Linked DNA regions of Homo sapiens: region 2 is linked to region 1. Evidence: fine-mapped QTL for protein levels in blood plasma. A gene starts in region 1. The other region holds a variant in brackets. All regions are shown on one strand. Distances are between the middles of the regions. Region 1 holds the start of PM20D1 (peptidase M20 domain containing 1). Region 2 overlaps SLC41A1 (solute carrier family 41 member 1).

What was found. PIP is the posterior inclusion probability: the model's chance that the variant is causal. The UK Biobank Pharma Proteomics Project read protein levels with antibody pairs (Olink). The fine-mapping took linkage between variants from a reference panel, not from the people measured, so its PIPs are less certain.
Region 2: its variant is fine-mapped to the plasma level of the PM20D1 protein (UK Biobank, PIP above 0.99).

What each region holds. Positions count from the first base shown.
Region 1 is chr1:205,845,211-205,856,160 of GRCh38, reverse strand. It overlaps PM20D1 (peptidase M20 domain containing 1), which reads left to right and starts at 6,029. Exons shown (of 13, transcript NM_152491.5): 1 at 6,029-6,257; 2 at 8,190-8,276; 3 at 10,604-10,836. The coding sequence starts at 6,089. It overlaps LOC107985250 (a long non-coding RNA gene), which reads right to left and starts at 1,406. Exons shown (of 2, transcript XR_001738417.2): 1 at 1-1,406. RefSeq lists an enhancer at 5,806-6,100.
Region 2 is chr1:205,781,603-205,792,499 of GRCh38, reverse strand. It overlaps SLC41A1 (solute carrier family 41 member 1), which reads left to right. Exons shown (of 11, transcript NM_173854.6): 11 at 782-3,405. The coding sequence ends at 967. Among named protein-coding and RNA genes, the nearest start is that of RAB29, 12 kb to the right of the region's middle. RefSeq lists an enhancer at 809-868. The variant A/G (reference allele first, on the strand shown) is at 1,752.

The DNA.
Region 1 (10,950 bases):
TTCATAGTAGCCTTAAATGATCTTTTGTATTTCTATGGTATCAGTTGTAATATCTTCTGTTTCATTTCTAATTGAGCTTATTTGGATCTTCTCTCTGTTCTTGGTTAATCTCACTAATGGTCTATCAATTTTTTTTATCTTTTCAAAGAACCATCTTTTTGCTTCATTTATCTTTTGTATTGTTTTTTGTTTGTTTGTTTCAATTTCATTTAGTTCTGCTCTGACTTTTGTTATTTATTTTCTTCTGCTGGTTTTGGGTTTGGTTTGTTCTTGTTTCTCTAGTTCCTTGAGGTGTGATCTTAGGTTCTCTATTTGTGTTCTTTCAGACTTTTTGATGTAGGCATTTAATGCTATGAAATGTCGTCTTAGCACCACTTTTGCTGTATCCCAGAGGTTTTAACATGTTCTGTCACTATTATCATTCAGTTCAAAGAATTTTTTAATTTCCATTTTTATTTCATTGTTGATCCAAAGATCATTCAGGAGCAGATTATTTAATTTCCACATATTTGTATAGTCTTGAGGGTTCCTTTTAGAGTTAATTTCCAATTTTATTCCACTGTAGTCTGAGAGAGTACTTGATATAATTTTGATTTTCTTAAATTTATTGAGATTTGTTTTGTGGCCGATCAAATGGTCTATCTTGGAGAATGTTCCATGTGCTGATGAAAAAAATGTATATTCTGAATTGTTAGGTAGAATAGTCTGTAAATATCAGTTAAGTCCATTTGTTCTAGGGTATAGTTTAAGTTCATTGCACTCCAGCGTGGGTGAAAAGAGCAAAACTCAATCTCAAAAAAAAAAGACTCACTACTAAGATGGTCAATATCTCAAGCTCAGGCTTGGTCAGACCTATAACATGCTATCACAAGTATGTGTTAAAGGGCTATGCAGATGAGGGATGCATTAAATTTTGACCATAGGAGGCCTCATTAACCAAATTATATTAAATTATTATATTAAATTAGTAGGCCTCATTAACCAAATTATATTTAAATATTATATTAAAAAGTTCAGAGACATTTTTCTTTTTAAAAAGCCACACATCTAGTGTATGTGTTATGTGAACACAGATTATTCTGTTTAGCACAAGGTGCTTCTGCATGCAGGTGTAGATGTTCCCAGGGTCAATTATTCAAGTGACCTTAGCTACATAGGAGAAATAAATTTTATCTGTCTCTGGGCTTTTTGGAAGAATTCACATATAATTCTGTGGATACCCAAAAACTGAAGAAGAATATGGTTTTATCTTGTCACTTAGCTTATCTAGTTTACTGTCACTATACATTTCCTTTCCTATGTTTGTCTCCTATTTAGTAAAGACTTCCAGCCTTTTCAGCCTGGCCTCAGCTTGGCTACTGGGCATTAATCCCTGAGCCACTCATTTTTGTTTTTTCCTTCCTTCCTTTCTTTTTTTTTTTTTTTTTTTTTTTTCCAGAGACAAGGTCTTGCTCTCTCACTTACGCTTGAGCACAGTGGCACATTCATAGCTTACTGCAGCCTTGAATTCCTGGAATCCAGCAACCCTCCCACCTCAGCCTCCTGTAACTAGGACTACAGGTGCTCGCCACCATGCATGGCTAATCCCAGAGCCATTTGTCCCAGGGTGTTAGAGAGGGGGCTGCTTGCTGCTCCTAGGCCACCTTCTCCCACCTCTGACAACTTTGGAGGGGTTGTTTTTAATTAGATTTAGGAAGGTAATCTCATCACTCTCCATGAGATTTTCATAAGGGGAGGGAGGAGTTCCAAGAATCCTTTTTTCCTCTGACCCATCCTTCCTCAGCTCTGTACTCAATGGGTGGTAGGGATGAGGGAAAAAGACTGATGTTATAGCTCAAAGTTGTTGACTGCCTAGAGGCCTAGAAATGTGTTAGTAATGAATCTGGGGTAGGCCTGAGTACGTGGAGTGTATATGTACCGGTGTGTTTGGGTGTGTAAGGAGGTAGGGGTGGGAGGAGCATGGAACATAGTTCTGGGCAGTTGCACAAGTAGAAGGAAATCCTAGTTCTACTTTTTGATGATTTAACATTTATTGAATGACACATATGTAGGGCAAAGTTTGAGAGAGTTTATACTCTAATGCAATGGCTGGATGAACTCTCAATCGTTGCCCTACATATGGTGGCTTAGTTTTTCCAAGAGCAAATCTACAGTCTCTACTCTGCCCATGGGAATTAGATTGTCCTCTGATCAGTCACAAAATAAACTTCTTTATCACTTTGTAAAAGAACTGTGTCTCCATTGCTATTTCTACCACCCACCCCTTGCCCCTGATTTGCAGCTGACCTTTATGAATGTATTTTCCGAACTCAGCCAGGGCTGTAGTATTGGACTTCTCAGAGCTAAAAGTCACTGTTGGAATCTGGATGGCACCTGTCAGAGTCAAATGGTCAGAGATGAAAGACTGAACATGAATTAATCATTTTTTTTTCTACAGTCCTCTGTGCACAAAAAGTTCTTTTGCCTTCATTATCGTATTGCAGAGGGCAAAACACTAATATGAGGTAGGCACTATTGTTTTCTCTAATTCGAAGATAAGGGAAAAAGCTTGAGTCCAGGAGTTCAAGAGCAGCCTGGGCAAAATAGTGAGACCCTATCTCTACAAAAATAATAATAAATTTAAAAATAATAAATACATAAAATAAAAAGTATCTTTTTAAAAATTTTTAAAGTTTGGTAGAGATTAAGCTATTTTTTACTAAAAATTCATATATATATATATATTTATGACCTTGGACTAGATTTGTTAAGATTTTTTAAGCAAGAAAACATCACTAATTATAAAAGAATATAATAATAAATTCAACTATATTATTAAGACTTCAACCCATCAAAAGGCCATTAAAAAAATAAAAACACAAGACACAAATGAAGAGAAATATTTATAATTTAAATAAAACTGACAAAATTTTAGACTCCACAATATATAGAAACCCTTAAAATTCAATAAGAAGACAGCTCTAAACAAAAATGGGCAATAGATATGAACAGTCATTTTACCAGAGAAACATGAATGGCAAATAAGCATATTTAAAGATGTTTAGGCCAGGCATGGTGGTTCAGCCTGTCATCTCAGCACTTTGGGAGACCAAGGCAGGAGGATCATTTGAGGCCAGGAGTTCAAGACCAGTCTGGGCAACATAGAGAGACACTGTCTCTATAAAAAAACTTCTAAAAATTAGCTGAAGGTGTTGGTGTTCACTTGCAATCTTAACTACTCAGAAGGCTGCGGCAAGAGGATTCTTTGAGCTCAGGAGTTGGAGGCTGCAGTGAGCTATACTTGTGCCACTGAACTCCAGCCTGGGTGACAGAGCAAGACCCTATGATAAATAAATAAATAAATAAATAAATAAAGCTTAAACTCTTTAACAAACTAGAGAGTACAAAATAATACCACAAGGAGATATTTTCCAGGCACTAAATGGGCAAAATGAAGATATTGGAAATGCCAATGCCAAGAGCTAGTGAGAAAGTGAAGCAACAGGAACTTATATACTATGCACTACCTTGCTGATTAGTATAAATTGTTCCAATCACTTTGGAAAATAATTCAGCCTTCTCTTGTAAAATAGAACATACAGTACAACACAGCATTTTCACTCCTAGATATATATTCCAGAGAATCTCTTTTACCTGTGGCCCAGGAGACATGTACAATAATGTCAATAGACTGTAGCAAGATATAACAGCATGCATAAATCCCACAAACAGTGTTGGGTAAAAAGAGCAAATTGCAGAAGACTACACACAACATGATGTCATTTTTATAAGATATACACACACACACACACTATACATATATGTATATCATACATATGTTGTAGAACTATTTAAAACACACAACACGGTCATACAATTACCTTGGGCAGGGAGTTGGAAAATAAAGGCAATAGAACACATGCACCTTCAATGCTACTGATAATTTTCCATGATTGGCTAGATCTGGGAACAGTGTGGGAATTAGACAGATTGCAAGAATTGGAGCAGTGACAGGAGAAAAAATGCAGTTTGACCAGTTAGGTCTAAACTCCAAATCACGGGTGTTCATGTTATTATTTACTTTACATACACGTTGTACGTACTCTTAATTATCAAATATTATGTGATAAGATAATTTAAAGAATATTTAAGGACCAGGAAGTGTTTATGACATAATGTTAAAGGAAAAAAAGCAGAACATAGAACTTTGGATGCAGTATATGCATCTGTTTCATTTTAAAACAGGGACATCCTTCATTTGTGGGTATTTGTGTGCAGAGAAAAAAGATTGGATAACATCAAAATATGATGAGTGAACGTCTCTGGATATTGGGATAGCATGTGATTTTTTTCTTTATACTTAATGTTCCAAATATTTCACAAGGGCATAAATATACATGAATTTTACAATCATAAAAATTGTGCTGGGTGTGGTGGCTCATTCCTGTAATACTAGCACTTTGGGAGGCTTAAATGGGAGGGTTGCTTGAGTCCAGGAGTTCAAGAGCAGCCTGGACAAAATAGTGAAACCCTATCTCTACAAAAATAATAATAATTTTAAAAAATAATAAATATATAAAATAAAAAGTCTCTTTTAAAAAAATTTTAAAGTTAGGTAGAGATTAAGCTACTTTTTACTAAAAATTATGTCAATGTTCATGTTTAAATTTCAACTCTATTTTTAACATTCTAAATCTTAAACTAGGTGGTGAATCCAGAAATGTTCATTATGTTATTTTTTATATCTTTATAATATGTGAAGTATTTCATGATACTGTTTTAAAGTTGCTATTAAAAAGTAACTAGGCAGGGTGTGGTGGCTCACGCCTGTAATCCCAGCACTTTGGGAGGTCGAGGTGGGCAGATCACCTGAGGTCGGGAGTTCGAGACCAGCCTGACCAACATGGAGAAACCCCATCTCTACTAAAAATACAAAATTAGCCAGGCATGGTGGTGCATGCCTGTAATCCCAGCTACTTGGGAGGCTGAGGCCAGAGAATTGCTTGAAACTGGGAGGCGGAGGTTGCGGTGAGCCGAGATCGCCCCATTGCACTCCAGCCTGGGCACCGAGAGAGAAAAAAAAAGAAAAGAAAAGAAAAGTAACTACATGGCTGAATTTTTTTTTTTAAGCAAATCTTAAATGAAATGCAAACACCAGGACTGTGAACCTGTAGCTTTGGTCACAGGTAGCAATATGGCCTTACTGGTTGTATAGCACTTACTGAATTTTTCTTGAGAATTCTAAAATTTGAGAGTGATGCCAGATAAAATTGCATCAAGAAATCTGAAAGGAACGATTTATTCTGGCTTCAGGAAATCTGATTTTATATTTCTGTGACATAAGACAGGTTTTCTTTTTTCCAGAATGATCCTCTACTCTGAATAACCATAAAATTTCACTTGTGGAATACATCAAAATTATTTATACATCAAAATTCTCTTAAATATTTTATAGTAATCTTTCTAAAAATCCTTCAGTCTTACTGTACTTGTCTAGAGTTGCAAAAATGTAGTGTTAACATTAATATTAAAAGCACTTTCAATGAAATTTCTAAACAGGAGCCAACCCTCTGAGCTGGTATTTCAAAGCAGTATCTATAAACAGAGCAATTTGTTCCAATTTCAGATGAAATCAAGCTGGGAACCTAGAGAGCTCCCCCGCCCCAGGATCTAGGGAATTGTAGTCAGGTTCTAAGCTTCGGAAAAAACGAGCAGCAGAGTATGGTCTGATAAGCTTCGTGCATTTTATTTTGCTTTTCCTCCTTTATTTGATTTGTTGTCATACAGGAAAGGATTTATGGGTGAGAGATCAAGTGCGGACCAGACATGACTCTAGCCTGGAGCCCGACCTCACCTCTGCTCTGCAGGAACTGCTGGCCTCAGCACGAAAACCCACAACCCTCGAAAGGCCTTAAGGATCCTGGGCGGGGTCATTCTGTCAATTGGTTGTTCCGCTGTCCTAGCGAAGCGATGATTGGTCAGATCTGGATATGGGGTGTGGCTAAGGCTGTTTGCCGGAATAAGAGCAGAGCTAGGGCCAAGAAACGCTAGTCTGGGCGTTTAGGTCAGAACTACCCCGGTAGCCTGACAGCAGGAGCTCGAGAGAAGCATGGCTCAGCGGTGCGTTTGCGTGCTGGCCCTGGTGGCTATGCTGCTCCTAGTTTTCCCTACCGTCTCCAGATCGATGGGCCCGAGGAGCGGGGAGCATCAAAGGGCGTCGCGAATCCCTTCTCAGTTCAGCAAAGAGGAACGCGTCGCGATGAAAGAGGCGCTGAAAGGTGAACCCGGGTCCCCTTCACCCACCTATGCTCATATGTGGGTCCCTCCCTCCCCAGGTCAACCCGTGACTCCCCGCTTCCGCCGCAAAGCATCTGCTACTGCAGCTGGAGCCCCGACACGCACCCCAGCCCGGCCCCAACACCCTTCCCAGCACATCGTGCCCCTGTCTGGGGACGCCACACTTCCCCCATACCTGGCTCCTGGAACTCTGGTGTGCCCTGCCTAACCTGGAAGCTCCAACTTCACCCCTCTTGGCGTGACCACCGTCCATTCTTTCCCCTGCTTGCCTCGAGTATTACACCAGCTTTCATTTGTACATCAATTTTAACCTTTGAAAGTTTGCATGCCTGATAAATTACTGCGGTGTCGTAAAATAAGACAAATGATATTAGTCTTATCTACAAAGGAGAGAAATTGAGGCTTAGGTCAGCTAAATGATCTTCCCCAGGGCCCCACAGCAAAGAGTGGGCAGTGGGTGACAGCATCTAGTGCCTGTCGGACTCGCTGGGATCAGATGGCTCTAAAGAAAGGGAGTGGAGTGTTCCCGGGGTGTGGGATGTTCCTAATTCTCAATCATAATTGAAGAACATGTCTCCTCTAGATCTCTAATCCAGACCAAAAATTCATCCCTGTTCTGAATCTGCATTTTCCAGGAAACAGGAAAGTTTCTGTTGAGTGCTAGATCCTATGGGATGAAATCCTTCTTTACCATTCAGCTTAGCTCCAGTCTTTTCCCTTTCATTAAGTAATGGATTAAGAGAGACTGCCTGCATAAACATATAGAAGCAGATGCAGGGACCAAAAGCTAACCCCAATAGTTGGATATAGATTGTTCATATGCTAGAGTGACAAGCCTGGGAGGCAGAGCAGGGCTTTCCCAAAGCATAAATAATTCTCTAAAAGGCATTAGACAGCCACTCACAGTCTGCACAGAAGAGAACAAAAGCTACATAAGCTAGAATAGGGACCTCATAGCAACACAGCTTGGAACTCTGAGCAGGGGACAGAACACCTGAGATCAGATCCTTGGGTCTGCCCTTGAGTAGGCACTTGAATCTTTCTGAACCTCGGCTTCCCCATCTATCTGGTGGGCTATGCTATTGTAGGGTTGATCCTTAGCAAAACTGATGAAGTTTGTCTTTCAGAGACCCTTCCTGCCTCAGGTGAATTTGTTTGCACTGTGTTCTTGGAGAGCAGTCTAATTCAATATTCTCATGATTCATGCTTTCCCTCCCAGTGGTTTTGTCTTTGATCATGGAACTCTTTAAAACTGTAAAGTCTTAAAGACTCAAAGGGATGAGCCCAGTGAAGGTTCAGGAACTGAGACAACTGAGTAAGGAGGGTGAGATTATTTTAGGACTGAGGAGTTTGTTTGGAGGCTTCTAAATCCACCCCTTCCCAGGCATTATATGCCCAAAAAGCTGGTCTTGGTTGACAGACTAGTGAGACTCTGCATAAGGAATAAGCCTTTACATACAAAAACACACAAGCCTCATTGATGTAGGGACCCAGGACAGTGGGTGCCTTGAGAATGATGAAGCTTGGATTCATCAAAGCAATTGGTGATTTCAGAGGTAGTGAGGCCTTAGGAAGCAATTTATAGTAGCTTCCCTTCAAGACCAGGATCCAAAAATCCACTTCCCTCCAATCTTAGACTGTATTTGCCTTTAAGAACCATATCAGCCTAAACAAACCCAGAAGACATAGGTTTAAATCTATAGTCTGCCTGTTGCTCAGACAGCTCACCTAACCTCTCCAAGCATTTTCCCTCATCTTCGAATTAGAGGAAACAATAGCGCCTACCTCACATTAGTGTTTTGCCCTCTGCAATATGATAATGAAGGCAAAAGAACTTTTTGTGCACAGAGGACTGTAGAAAAAAACAATGACTAATTCATTTTCAATCTTTCATCTCTATTTGACTCTGACAGGTGCCATCCAGATTCCAACAGTGACTTTTAGCTCTGAGAAGTCCAATACTACAGCCCTGGCTGAGTTCGGAAAATACATTCATAAAGGTCAGCTGCAAATCAGGGGCAAGGGGTGGGTGGTAGAAATAGCAATGGAGACACAGTTCTTTTACAAAGTGATAAAGAAGTTTATTTTGCGACTGATCAGAGGACAATCTAATTCCCATAGGCAGAGTAGAGACTGTAGATTTGCTCTTGGAAAAACTAAGCCACCATATGTAGGGCAAAGATTGAGAGTTCATCCAGCCATTGCATTAGAGTACAAACTCTCTCAAATTTTGCCCTACATGTGTGTCATTCAATAAATGTTAAATCATCAAAAAGTAGAACTAGGATTTCCTTCTACTTGTGCAACTGCCCAGAACTATGTTCCATGCTCCTCCCACCCCTACCTCCTTACACACCCAAACACACCGGTACATATACACTCCACGTACTCAGGCCTACCCCAGATTCATTACTAACACATTTCTAGGCCTCTAGGCAGTCAACAACTTTGAGCTATAACATCAGTCTTTTTCCCTCATCCCTACCACCCATTGAGTACAGAGCTGAGGAAGGATGGGTCAGAGGAAAAAAGGATTCTTGGAACTCCTCCCTCCCCTTATGAAAATCTCATGGAGAGTGATGAGATTACCTTCCTAAATCTAATTAAAAACAACCCCTCCAAAGTTGTCAGAGGTGGGAGAAGGTGGCCTAGGAGCAGCAAGCAGCCCCCTCTCTAACACCCTGGGACAAATGGCTCTGGGATTAGCCATGCATGGTGGCGAGCACCTGTAGTCCTAGTTACAGGAGGCTGAGGTGGGAGGGTTGCTGGATTCCAGGAATTCAAGGCTGCAGTAAGCTATGAATGTGCCACTGTGCTCGAGTGTAAGTGAGAGAGCAAGACCTTGTCTCTGAAAAAAAAAAAAAAAAAAAAAAAAAAAGAAAGGAAGGAAGGAAAAAACAAAAATGAGTGGCTCAGGGATTAATGCCCAGTAGCCAAGCTGAGGCCAGGCTGAAAAGGCTGCAAGTCTTTACTAAATAGGAGACAAACATAGGAAAGGAAATGTATAGTGACAGTAAACTGGATAAGCTAGGTGACAAGATAAAACCATAGTCTTCTTCGGTTTTCGGGTATCCACAGAAGTTTATGTGAATTCTTCCAAAAAACCCAGAGAGAGATAAAATTTATTTCTCCTATGTAGCTAAGGTCGCTTGAATAATTGACCCTAGGAACATCTACACCTGCACGCAGAAGTACGACCTTGTGCTAAACAGAATAATCTTTATGTTCACATAACACATACACTAGATGTGTGGCTTTTTAAAAAGAAAAATGTCTCTGAACTTTTTAATATAATATTTAAATATAATTTGGTTAATGAGGCCTACTAATTTAATATAATAATTTAATATAATTTGGTTAATGCGGCCTCCTATGGTCAAAATTTAATGCATCCCTCATCTGCATAGCCCTTTAACACGTACTTGTGATAGCATGTTATAGGTCTGACCAAGCCTGAGCTTGAGATATTGACCATCTTAATAGTGAGTCTTTTTTTTTTGAGTTGGAGTCTTGCTGTGTCAGCCAGGCTGGAGTGCAGTGGTGTGATCTCGGCTCACTGCAACCTCCACCTCCTGAGTTCAAGCAGTTCTCCTGCCTCAGCCTTCCAAGTTGCTGGGATTACAAGTACGTGCCACCACGCCCAGCTGTTTTTTGTATTTTTAGTAGAGACGGGGTTTCACCATGTGGGCCAGGCTGGTTTCGAACACCTGACCTCAAGTGATCTGCCCGCCTCAGCCTCCCAAAGTGCTGGGTTACAGGCATGAGCCACCACGCCTGGCCGAGTCTTTTTTTTTTTTTTTTGAGATGGAGTTTTGCTCTTGTCACCCACGCTGGAGTGCAATGGCGGAACCTCAGCTCACTGCAAACTCTGCCTCCCAGGTTCAAGCGATTCTCCTGTCTCAGCCTCCTGAGTAGCAGGGATTACAGGCATGAGCCACCACACCTCACTGATTTTTGTATTTTTAGTAGAGACAGGGTTTCGCCATGTTGGCCAGGCCGGTCTGGAACTCCTGACCTCAGGTGATCCACCTGCCTCGGCCTCCCAAAGTGCTGGGATTACAGGCATGAGCCCCCAAGCCTGGCCTTAATGGTGGCTCTTGATTTGCATTTATTACATAGTAATAGCACATTGAAATATGGGGAAGACGAATTTCAAAGATTGTCCAGGTAGATCAGGAATCAGACTAGCTTTGTCCTAGAAGGCTTCCTAAAGGAGGATGCATGTTTAAAAAAATAAATAAATAAAGGAACAGGAAGCACAACTTGGTAGGAAAACCTAAGGAAACTGTTAACCCTGGTTCTCTCTTCCTGCCCTTTTTGCTTCTAGTCTTTCCTACAGTGGTCAGCACCAGCTTTATCCAGCATGAAGTCGTGGAAGAGTATAGCCACCTGTTCACTATCCAAGGCTCGGACCCCAGCTTGCAGCCCTACCTGCTGATGGCTCACTTTGATGTGGTGCCTGCCCCTGAAGAAGGCTGGGAGGTGCCCCCATTCTCTGGGTTGGAGCGTGATGGCATCATCTATGGTCGGGGCACACTGGACGACAAGAACTCTGTGATGGTCTGAGATGCAATGTTCCCTCTGCCTTGGGGCCCTAAAGATCAATCAGGATGGGGGTGCTTGGCTGACCCTGGGAGGTGGGAGATAATGGTAAAAAGAATCTTGGCTCCAGGA
Region 2 (10,897 bases), 64 kb after region 1:
GTCATTCTTAATTATCTGTATTAATAGAAGGTAAGCAAGAACACAGATAAAATCAAAGCCACAGATCATGTCAAATGTATTTTGAATTGGTATGCATTGTCTGCTTTATATTAATATTGAGGTGACTTATTCACAATTCAACTTTATTAGGACTAATGTTAAAATAAACTTGCATTCTTTGAGCCCAAACAATGGAAAAGAATGGAATGAAAAGCCACAACAACAGAATGAAAAGGGTCAGGAGGAAGCCAGCTTGGGATGATCATCTGTTACTTAAGACAACCGCCAGCAGCAGCTTCAAACACTATCCTTATACCACTCTGCCGAGAGAAGACATCCCTTTAGGAAAAGCTGACTCCAGCAGCCAGCCCCCTGCCATGCTCCTGGAAAGGCCAACATGGCAGGAATTGGAGTGACCCCAGAATGAGGTGACCCAGAGTTAGAGGCAAGAGGGCTGAGTTTCTGCAACAAGTAGGATTTAGGTCAGGAAGCTCCTTGTTTGGTAAACTTGGGAGCAGAATATAATGCTGATGTGGGTGACCCTGGGTCGTAGCAGCATCTTCCTTTCTAAAGAGCTCTTATTGTGCCTGTTGTCTGCTCAAAGTGGTAATTGTGGGGTGGAGAAACACAGAGAGGTTGCTGGGGTGGAAAGAGGAAGATTAAAAAGTAAGGATTATGGCCAGCCAAGCCCTGTGATGCACTGAATGGGTCTGATCATGTGGCCTCTGGCTCCCCCTGGAGAGAGAGGATGGCTATAGGCTGGGCCCTTTTGTCTCCCCAGGTGCTGATTCTCCTGTACATCGCAGACTGGATGGTGCACTGGATGTGGGGCCGGGGCCTGGACCCGGACAACTTCTCCATCCCATACTTGACTGCTCTGGGGGACCTGCTTGGCACTGGGCTCCTAGCACTCAGCTTCCATGTTCTCTGGCTCATAGGGGACCGAGACACGGATGTCGGGGACTAGCTTGGTCACTCAACATTTTCCCCATCCCTCTGCACTTTCTATTTGAAATTTTTCTTTTGTTCCCCTGTCCCTCCTCCACCCCACACTCCCACCTCTTTCTAGGACTTCACTTTGATACCAAATTCTCATTATTTTCAATGGGAATTTTTATACATTGAGCCAAGTTTGTATAGCAAGAATTTGGGAAACACAGATGGCCTGAGATAAGCAGTACAAGTAGGTTTTTGAGACAATCACCAAGTGCAGTTTCATGGTGGGTGCCTCCAGGTGATGTGGACTGGAGCAGGGGAGTTTTGTCTGGAATCTGGGGACATGGGGTTTGGCTTTAGCAACCTGTCTTGGCCCTAATGAGAAACCCTTTGTAAGTGGGCTCTGGATTTTTGGTTTTGTTTTCTTTTTATCTGTTTTGTTTTATTTTTGGTTTTGGTTGAACAGAGGGACAGAAGAATAAGTAACACTCCCAAACACAGACATACTTTTGTAGAAGTGGACCAACTTCAAAGCTCTGGACAGGAGACACCTGCTCCAGGCCCCTGTGATCCCAGTTCTGTTCTCTTGCCCTCTGGACCTAAGCGTTCCCACTCGCAGAAAGAGTAAGGTGGACTGACTTTTCAATTTGTGCACATGCCTCTTGTTCAATGGCCTGGTCAACATCAACAACCCCTCCCTCTGATCATTTCCAGTTGATTGTCATATCCAGGAAAAAATGGAACAGTGCACTCTTCTCCCTGTTGACCCATGTCCACCTATTGGTTCCCCAAAATCCACATTCTCCCTGGGCCCA[A/G]ATGACTTTGTCTCCCTGGGCCCAGATTCTTTGTCTCTCTTCAACCTTCATCTCAAATTGTCTCTAAGCACTACCTTCCCCAGAGCTTGCCAGGTTGGGTTTTGAGATTAGGGTCAGGTCATGGGTATGTGGAGAATGGTTTGGAGGTTGAGGACAACCACAGGTGTCTCATTGCTGCCATTTCTCCTGAGGACATAATCACTTGGTCACCTTGGACCCTGTCACTTCCTAAAATTACTCGTTCTGTCATGCCATAGAGGTCAGTTTTCCTCTTTCTTGGCTTCTACCCACAAACATTCACCAATCATTTATTCGTTCATTTAGCAAATATGCAGCCTCCGCAAGATGAGCTCTCCTGCAGACAAGCATGGTCTGAAACATTCTTTGAGCAATATTTATTGAGTGCCTACTATGTGTTAGGTACTGTGCCAGGCACTGATAAGCCAGTGGTAAGGGAAACACAGCTCTAACCTCACCTCATTCTCCAGGTTACAAAGGCCATGTGCCCCTTTGAATCTGGCAGAGAAAGTTTCCTCGTTGTAAGTATTTGCATCTACTTCAAGCCAGATTCTTCTGCCTCTTTCTCCTTTCCAGACCCCTACTCTGTGCAGTGCTGACCACAGCTAGAGCCACCGCCCCATTGCTCAACCAGTATTTATTTCCCTAAACGACCCTTCCTCACATTCCCTTCCCTCCACCTCTCCTTACCAAGCACCCAAAAGAGGATTTAGAACTAGCAGGGTGGACATCATCTGGTTGTTTCTACTTTTCTCTGCCTAGCACAAAATTGGGAGAAAACTGGAGCCTCCATCCGCAGTCACACGTGTACAGATCTGGGGATTTGGATGTAGGCTTTTTCTAACTTCTCTCTCAGAAGCTTCTACAGAAACCCTTCCATCTGTAGCCTCAAGGGCCCACCTCCAAGGGAAGGCTTAGGCAATGATCCTGTTTCTACCAACACTGCACCTTATCCCAGGAACCTGCCCTAGACCTCCAGAGACCATATTTTCTCTCCCTCCATTTCTACCCAGACCTCCAGGCCTCCTTCTGGAATCATAGAACCGTAGAATTGGAAGGAATTTTAGAGGTTTTCTAGTTGGAGTTGTGTCCAACAGAATTCATTAACACCAGCCTGGGCTTGTTTTTCCTCCTCCCTCTGGACTTTTTTCATCTTTTCCTCCACCTCAAAAAATACTTACACACAGATTCTTCTTGTACAGGCATCAAAACCAACTCCTCTGCCCCTAAGGCTGTGTCCCTGTGGTCTCCAGCCACCCCTACCCCAGTCACTCGCCCCTTCCTCATCTCTGGAATTTGGCCAGGCAGTCCCAGAAGACTCTGGAGTGACCTCCTTTGCCTAAAAAGCAGACAGATAGGCATGCCCCAGGCCCTGAGTGAGCAGAGGAGGACTGTAGGGTGAGAGGGAAAGAAAATGAAGGTGACTTTCATGGAAGTTTCATTTCTTTTCCCCGATTGTACCAACTGCATGTACTTTTGGCCTGGCTGCAAGGAGCAATATTGGTTTACTCTCGTATCCTTAAAAAGTTACAGAACTGTGTCTTAAGAGAATTATTTATAGTTACTATAACTGAATTGACAAATGTCAACTTAACTGATAAATTATATTTGGTAAAATAAAGAGGACGTTTATTTAGATGGTTGGTGTTTCCTGTATGTCTCATCAAAAAGCAGCTTCAACTGTTGTCTTGGGCCCCTCTGTAGGCCTTACCCTCTCCTCAATTAGGAGTAGAAAGGGGCCAAAGTGTGACAAGAAATGAAACATCTCGGCCGGCTGCGGTGACTCACGCCTGTAATCCCAGCACTTTGGGAGGCCGAGGCGGGCGGATCACAAGCTCAAGAGATGGAGACAATCCTGGTCAACATGATGAAACCCCGTCTCTACTAAAAATACAAAAATTAGTCAGGTGTGGTGGCGGGTGCCTGTAGTCCCAGCTACTCAGGAGGCTGAGGCAGGAGAACCACTTGAGCCCAGGAGGCAGAGGTTGCAGTGAACCAAGATTGCACCACTGCACTCCAGCCTGGCAACAGAACGAGACTCCATCTCAAAAAAAAAAAGGAAACATCTCTAAAATGCAGAGATTGTGTGATAGAAAATACAGCATCGCCAGACACAGCGGCTCATGCCTGTAATCCCAGCACTTTGGGAGGCTGAGAGGGGTGGATCACCTGAGGTCAGGAGTTCGAGACCATCTTGGCCAACATGGTGAAACCCCGTCTCTACAAAAATTAGCTGGGCGTGGTGGCGGGCGCCTGTAATCCCAGCTACTTGGGAGGCTGAGGCAAGAGGATCACTTGAACCCAGGAGGTGGAGGTTGCAGTGAGCTGACATCATGCCATTGCACTCCAGTCTGGGTGACAAGAGCAAAACTCTGCCTCAAAAAAAAAAAAAAAAGAAAAAACAACAGGCATTTATTGAGAAACTGGTGCACGGGGACACACTCAAGAAGCTAGATGCAGGGTCCTTGCTCTCGAGGAGGTTGTACTCTGGTCTCCATGTGTTAACTCAGCCTCTGTTGGGGGATTGTGCTATGGGTCCAAGCATTTATGGGTTAAGATTCCCTCCCTACCGAGGCTTACAATCTGGGTCAAAATAATGACGGCTCTTATTTGTTGAGTATTTCCTGTGTGTCTTCACCGTTCACCTTTAAGCCCTTAGAAACTTATAATAGACTGACTGCAAAGGGTTTGGAGTCAGATGGGCCTTGGTTCAAATCCCAGCTCTTCTGCCTGTATTTGTATAACCCTGGGCAAATCATTCACCCTTTCTGAGCTTCAGTTTCCTCATCAGTACTAATACTTATTTCATAGGATCATTATGAGACCTCAGTGAGATAATAAACAAAGCACTAAGCTCCGTGCCTGGTATATACTAAACCCAAAAATCCTAATCAATACTACAGTGTGGGAGGGACGAAGGCCAGTGACTAGGTCATGTCAGTACGCTGGCCATGGGATAAATTCAGGGTGGATAAGGGAGCGGGCCAATGAAAAGGGCACCTGATCAAGGCTTGGGAGTCAGGGACATCCTGGAGGAAGCTGAGAAGAATAGGAGTTAGCCTAGCAGAAAATAGGAGAAAGAGCCGTCCTGCAGAGGGAACCAGGAGCTGAGCAAGGAAGTAAGCCTGATGCTTTTGGGAACTGCAAATAGCTCTGTATGACTGGAGTTGGGAGCGCAGACGTTGATAGCACAACCTTATGAGACGCACGTATTTGTGACAAAGCAGTTTTTCTGAGATGGCAGATACAGAAAGGCAGAGTCAGAGCACAGCCCCACTGAGGTATCTCTGACTACAAAGCCTGTGTCGGGAACCACTGCCCACCCAGGACATGCCCCCATGGGATATGTCACAAAAGTATTGAGCAGATACTGGGTGCAGAACATTTGCCAGTCTCAAAAATCTGCCTTTTATCACAGCCTGTGCTCCAGTACTAACTCTTCAAAGCAATGTTTATAAGGCTAGTAAAGGTTAATGGAAAGAGGATAATTGCTTGTTAATTATTATTTATATAGTGTTTCACTATATAGTATACTATACATATACTTTTAAGTGATAGACTCATTTGTAACATCAATGTTTTCTCTAATAACGCTATGAGATAGATATTATTGCCATTTTGCAAGAGAAAAACTGAGGCTCAGAGAAAAGTTAAATGTCTTGCCCCAGGTCATATATTCACACCCAGGTTTCTTAGCCCAGTGCGTGCCTTCTATGCCTGGAGCCAGATGAAATGGCTGGCCATGGTGCCCCTTTATAAGGAATATAAAACATTGCTAAAACGATCAGAAAAATGGGTGCCTGTTATCTCAGTTTTGCTTATGAGACACTATACATGACTGCAAAACGTTAATTGTTTACTGAAATAGTATCTTCCAATGGACATTTAAAGTCATGGCTCCAAGGCGCCAGCCTATCTCTGATGGTATTTTTATAACATAATTACAGGCAGCACTACCAATTCAGAGGTCAGTCAGCTGACAGTCTCCTGAACTTAGTTGTCTCCTTTAGCTAAACTTCAGAAACCGAATAATGCATAGTATAATGCTGTTTACTGTACTGTATTTTTATTACATTATCTAAATATGAAATATTTTAATATGGCACCCATGAAAATGTCTGGCTTGAATGATTAGAAACAAAACAAAAAAAAAACTCTACAGCCAGGCATGGTGGTATGAGCTTATAGTCCCAGCTACCCAGGAGGCTGAGGCCGGAGGATCAGTTGAGCTCAGGAGTTCAAGTCTAGTCTGGGCAATTTGGTGAGACTCTCTTTTCAAAAACACAAAAATCTTAATAACTCAAGAAAGAAAAAGAAATTGCAGAAAAGTGAAGACAGCTTGGCCAACCAAAAAAGAATGTTTAAAAATAATTTCAAAGACTTTACAGTCATATTTATGTTTAGTTAAGTATGAATGACTAATATTATCTAGTCATTGGTGATTTTTTTAAGTTAAATGAAAAACACATCCAAATAAGTTTAAATGTTCTGTCCTGGCCAGGCGCGGTGGCTCACGCCTGTATTCCCAGCACTTTGGGAGGCCGAGGCGGGCGGATCACGAGGTCAGGAGATCAAGACCATCCTGGTTAACACACTGAAACCCCGTCTCCACTAAAAATAAAAAATAAAAAAATTAGCCGGGTGTGGTGGTGGGTTCCTGTAGTCCCAGCTACTCGGGAGGCTGAGGCAGGAGAATGGCGTGAACCCGGGAGGCAGAGCTTGCAGCAAACCGAGATCGTGCCACTGCACTCCAGCCTGGGTGACAGAGAGAGACTCCATCTCAAAAAAAAAAAAAAAAAGTTATGTCCTATTCAGTCATATTTATGTGATATACAGTCCTTGTTTTGAACATAAATATTTTGTATTATATTCAAATGTTAAGTGAAAAAAATGTTGAACAATTGTATAGAGAACATTGCATTAGAAGAGCCCCAAATTGCGGCCTTCTTGGGACACCCACATGTTTATCTGTCTTTTACTCGGCCACAGGCTGTCATGCGCATAACTTTCAATCATATTACCTAAATTGTTAACTACTTCACAAATTACTCAGAAATAAAGTATGTGGTTTTTAGGAATTCGAAGTCCATGGAAAGGGAGACTAAAGCTTTAAGAGGTTAACTTTAAGACCTGCCCCAGGTGTCAAAGACGGAATATTAACTACAGTCTCCTGATTGGCAGGCCACACACCAAACCACCCTTCGACACAGGCTCAAGAAGGTAGCGGGGAAAGATGTCACCATGGCCGGAAGTGCTCTTAGGGGACCCACGTCCAAGCCAAGAACAAGGCCACTGATCTCTCGCCCTCATAACTCCCATCCTGTGGAGCCAGAATAGTCCATCATGTGCCCACTCATGCTTCTGCTCATGCTTCTACATTCTATATCTCTCGCTTAGCTTAACATCTAGGTTATCTTTTTTCTGTATCAGGGTCACAGCTGGCTGCCAGAATCCTCTGAGATGACCCAGGGCTTACCTAGAATTTCTCCTGCTTCTCCAACCAGACACAACTGCCAGGCTGCCTTCGCCAATCAGGGCAGATTCTTTTTTTTTTTTTTTTTTTTACTTCAGTAAGTAGGGGTCCTGTTTTCCACCTTTGGAATGAGGAAACTCAGAAAACATGCTAAGGATGCTGTACTCTTCTGGGAAACCTCCCTCATCCCCACACCCAGCTTAATTTTTAAAAATAGTTGTAATTAGAGGTAGACAGACATAGTAATAGATTTGGATCCCAGCTCTCTCAGCTCGTGGCCATAATTAGCCTCTTTTGGTCCCCAAAATGGAACAATAATGCCCTCTCTGTGGGGTTGTTAGGCACACAGAAGATTCGACAAATAGAAGCTTTTATGATGATGATGATAAAATGTGGGTTGAATTAGTGGTGGTAATAATATGAAGGAACTGGGGAATGAAGAAGTGGATAGCCCTGGAGCGATGCTGGGTTTTTTTGTGAGGTTTTTTTTGTTTCGTTTTTGGTTTTTGTTTTTTGTTTTTTTTTGAGATGGAGTCTTGCTCTGTCGCCCAGGCTGGAGTGCAATAGTGCGATTTCGACTTACTGCAACCTCCACCTCCCAAGTTCAAGCGATTCTCCTGCCTCAGCCTCCTGAGTAGCTGGGATTACAGGCATTCGCCACCACACCTGGCTAATTTTTTTGTATTTTTAGTAGAGACGGGGTTTCTCCACGTTGGTCAGGCTGGTCTCGAACTCCCGACCTCAGGTGATCCGCCCGCCTCGGCCTCTCAAAGTGTTGGGATTACAGGCGTGAGCCACCAAGCCCAGCCGATGCTGGGTTTTATCCATCTGTGACATGGGTGCAGCTGAAGCTGGACAACGCTGAGCAGTGAGGAGGACCAGCCTGTTTCACAGCTAGGCTTCCACTGGGCGAAGGCTATGACATGGCTAAGCTAAGCCAACTATGACCCTGAGTCCAGCTGCATCCTCAGAGGCTCAGAAACCTAGTCCCATTCAGATGTCATCCCACTCAAGGAGGCTGCCAGACCCACACACCCCCAGAGGCCTGTGCATAAGACCAGATGCCAGCTGGTCAGTGGACTGGACGGACACGTCAGCCTGACCAGCACATTCACTCCTGGAAGCAAGCCACAAGGGAAGGCAGATGATCAGAAAGTACCTGGAAAGTCAGGAATCCTAATAGAGAAGTTAGTTTTAAAACGCAAAAGTCCAGCAGGCGCCAGGCCTTGTTATATTTGGCTGCATGAGTCTGCACAATAGGGATACCTGACAGAGGGCCAGATATTCTTGTAAGACTCTGGTCCCTCTGCCAGACAGAGCCCAAAGAAGTGAAGCCAGAATTCTTTCAGAGTCTCCTTTCTTTGCCTCTGAGACCTTTCTTTGGATCAGTGCATTCCTTCTTTAGGTGTGTTTATACCTTGGGTCAATGTCACCTCCTGCCTGGGCACCTCTCATTACATGTGGATTTCACAGTTTATCTTTGAGAGGGGTAGGAGGACAATGCTACTTCCAAGTTCTTGGCAAGGAGGGGCAGGTTATCAGTGGATAACTAAGGATGGCCTATGGGTGCAATAATTTCTGCTTTTCTCACCTCCTAGAGAGTTGAAATAACATAGGAAATTAGAACAGTCATGTCTGTGTTGGAAGGGAACTTTATTTTGTTTCACAGATGAGACTTTCCTGTGCCATATGGACAGTTGGGAACCACACAACCAGTTCTTTGAAGCAAAATTTTCTCTTTAGTTTTCACTTTTTTCCTGTCTTCTTTCCCTGGCCTTTATTTGGGGTGGAAGGAGGGTAGCCACAGAAGGAGGCAAATGTGACAACCAAGGCAGTGAAAACTATAGTTTGATGTTTTCCCTAGATACTCCCAGGCCCAAATCTGGCCTAGACCCTTGGCACGGGCCAGCAGAGGAATGACTGGCAGGCTGCCCTTTGAACTTGCCAGCCTCTCTGTCCTGAGGGTTTCCTTGGGCACCTTGCTGCGAAGTCTTCCAGCTGAATGCTTAGCTGGGTCACAGGCATTTCACCAAGCTGCCTGCCCCTCCCCAAAGCAACAGCCAAAAAGTTATGATCATCGAAGTGAGTCTGGGGGTTGGGGCTGAGGAACAGCTGTAGCCTCTTGACCTCACCCTTCTCTGGGTCTGTCCCTCTCCTCTGTGCTGCTGCTGGGCCATTTGCTATGTCACTTCAGTCTTCCCTTCATGTTACAAAGCATTTTTCCACTCTGCTCCTAGGACAATGTTGGAGGCTCTGGAGATTATATAAGCTGTCTCTCTCCTATTTGAAGTCAAGCTCCCAAGTCCTTAGGAGATTGCCTGGCACCAGATCATTTCTTCAACAAGTGTTCATTGAATTCATAGTGTAGGCATCACTAATAGCTACCTGACATCAGCAACATACTAAGATGCACACCACATCCTCTGTGTGGGGCTCTTGCCCAAAATGTTTCTTAAATCAAATCTTGAGGCAATAAACAGACAATCCAGGATATGCGACTTCCTGTAAGACAACTGGCATGGACTCTAAAAAGAAAGTCAAAAAAAAAAGGGCAAGGGATTGTTATAGACAGTACTGTCCAACAGACCTTTCTGTGATGATGAAACTAGTTTATGTCTGTGCTGTTCAATATAGTAACTGCTAGCCAAATATGGCTGCTAAGCACTTGAAGTGTGGCTAGGCAACAGATGAGCTGGTCTTTACATTTATTTATTTTAATTAATTACTTTAAAAAATTTGTTTAGAGATGGGATCTCGCTATGTTGCCCAGGCTGGTCTCGAACTCCTGACCTCAAGCCATCCTCCTGCCTCAGCCTCCCTGAGTAGCTGAGATTGCAGGCAGGAGCCACCAAGCCCAGCTGATTTTATATAATTTAAATGTAAATAACCACACATGGCTACTGGCTCCTGTATTGGACACAGCATGCTCCTAAGATTGAAAGAGACTAAAGAAATAGAATAACCAAATTCCATGCATGAAACTTCATTGTATTCTGGATGACAGGTGAGGAGAAAATGAGAAAAAAATATTGGGGAGCTATAGAGAGATGTAAATGTAAACTGTTTGTTAGATGATATTATTGGATTAAGGTTAATTTTCATAGATGTGACAATGGTATTTTGGGCTGGGCGAGGTGGCTCACTCCTGTAATCCCAGCACTTTGGGAGGCCGAGGCAGGCAAATCACTTGAGGCCAGGAATTCGAGACCAGCCTGGCCAACATGGCAAACCCCATCTCTATTAAAAATAGCTCGGTGTGGTAGCGTGCACCTGTAGTCCCAGCTGCTTGGGAGACTGAGGCAGAAGAATTACTTAAACTCAGAAGGCAGAGGTTGCAGTGAGCCAAGATGGTGCCACTGCACTCCAGCCTGGATGTCAGAATGAGACTCTGTCTTAAAAAAAAAAAAAAAAAAAGATAATGGTATTTTGGCTTTGTAGGATAATTTTATTATTAGGAGCTGCATGTTGAAGTATTTAAGCTTGAAGTGTCTGCTACTTACTTTCAAACAGTTCAACACACACACAAAGAGACAAAGCAGATATGGCAAAATGTTAGTAATTGGTAAATCCCGATGAAGGACATATTAGTATGCATTGTACTGTTAACTTTTCTATGGGTTTGAAATTTTTCAAAATAAAAAGTGGAAAGTAAAAA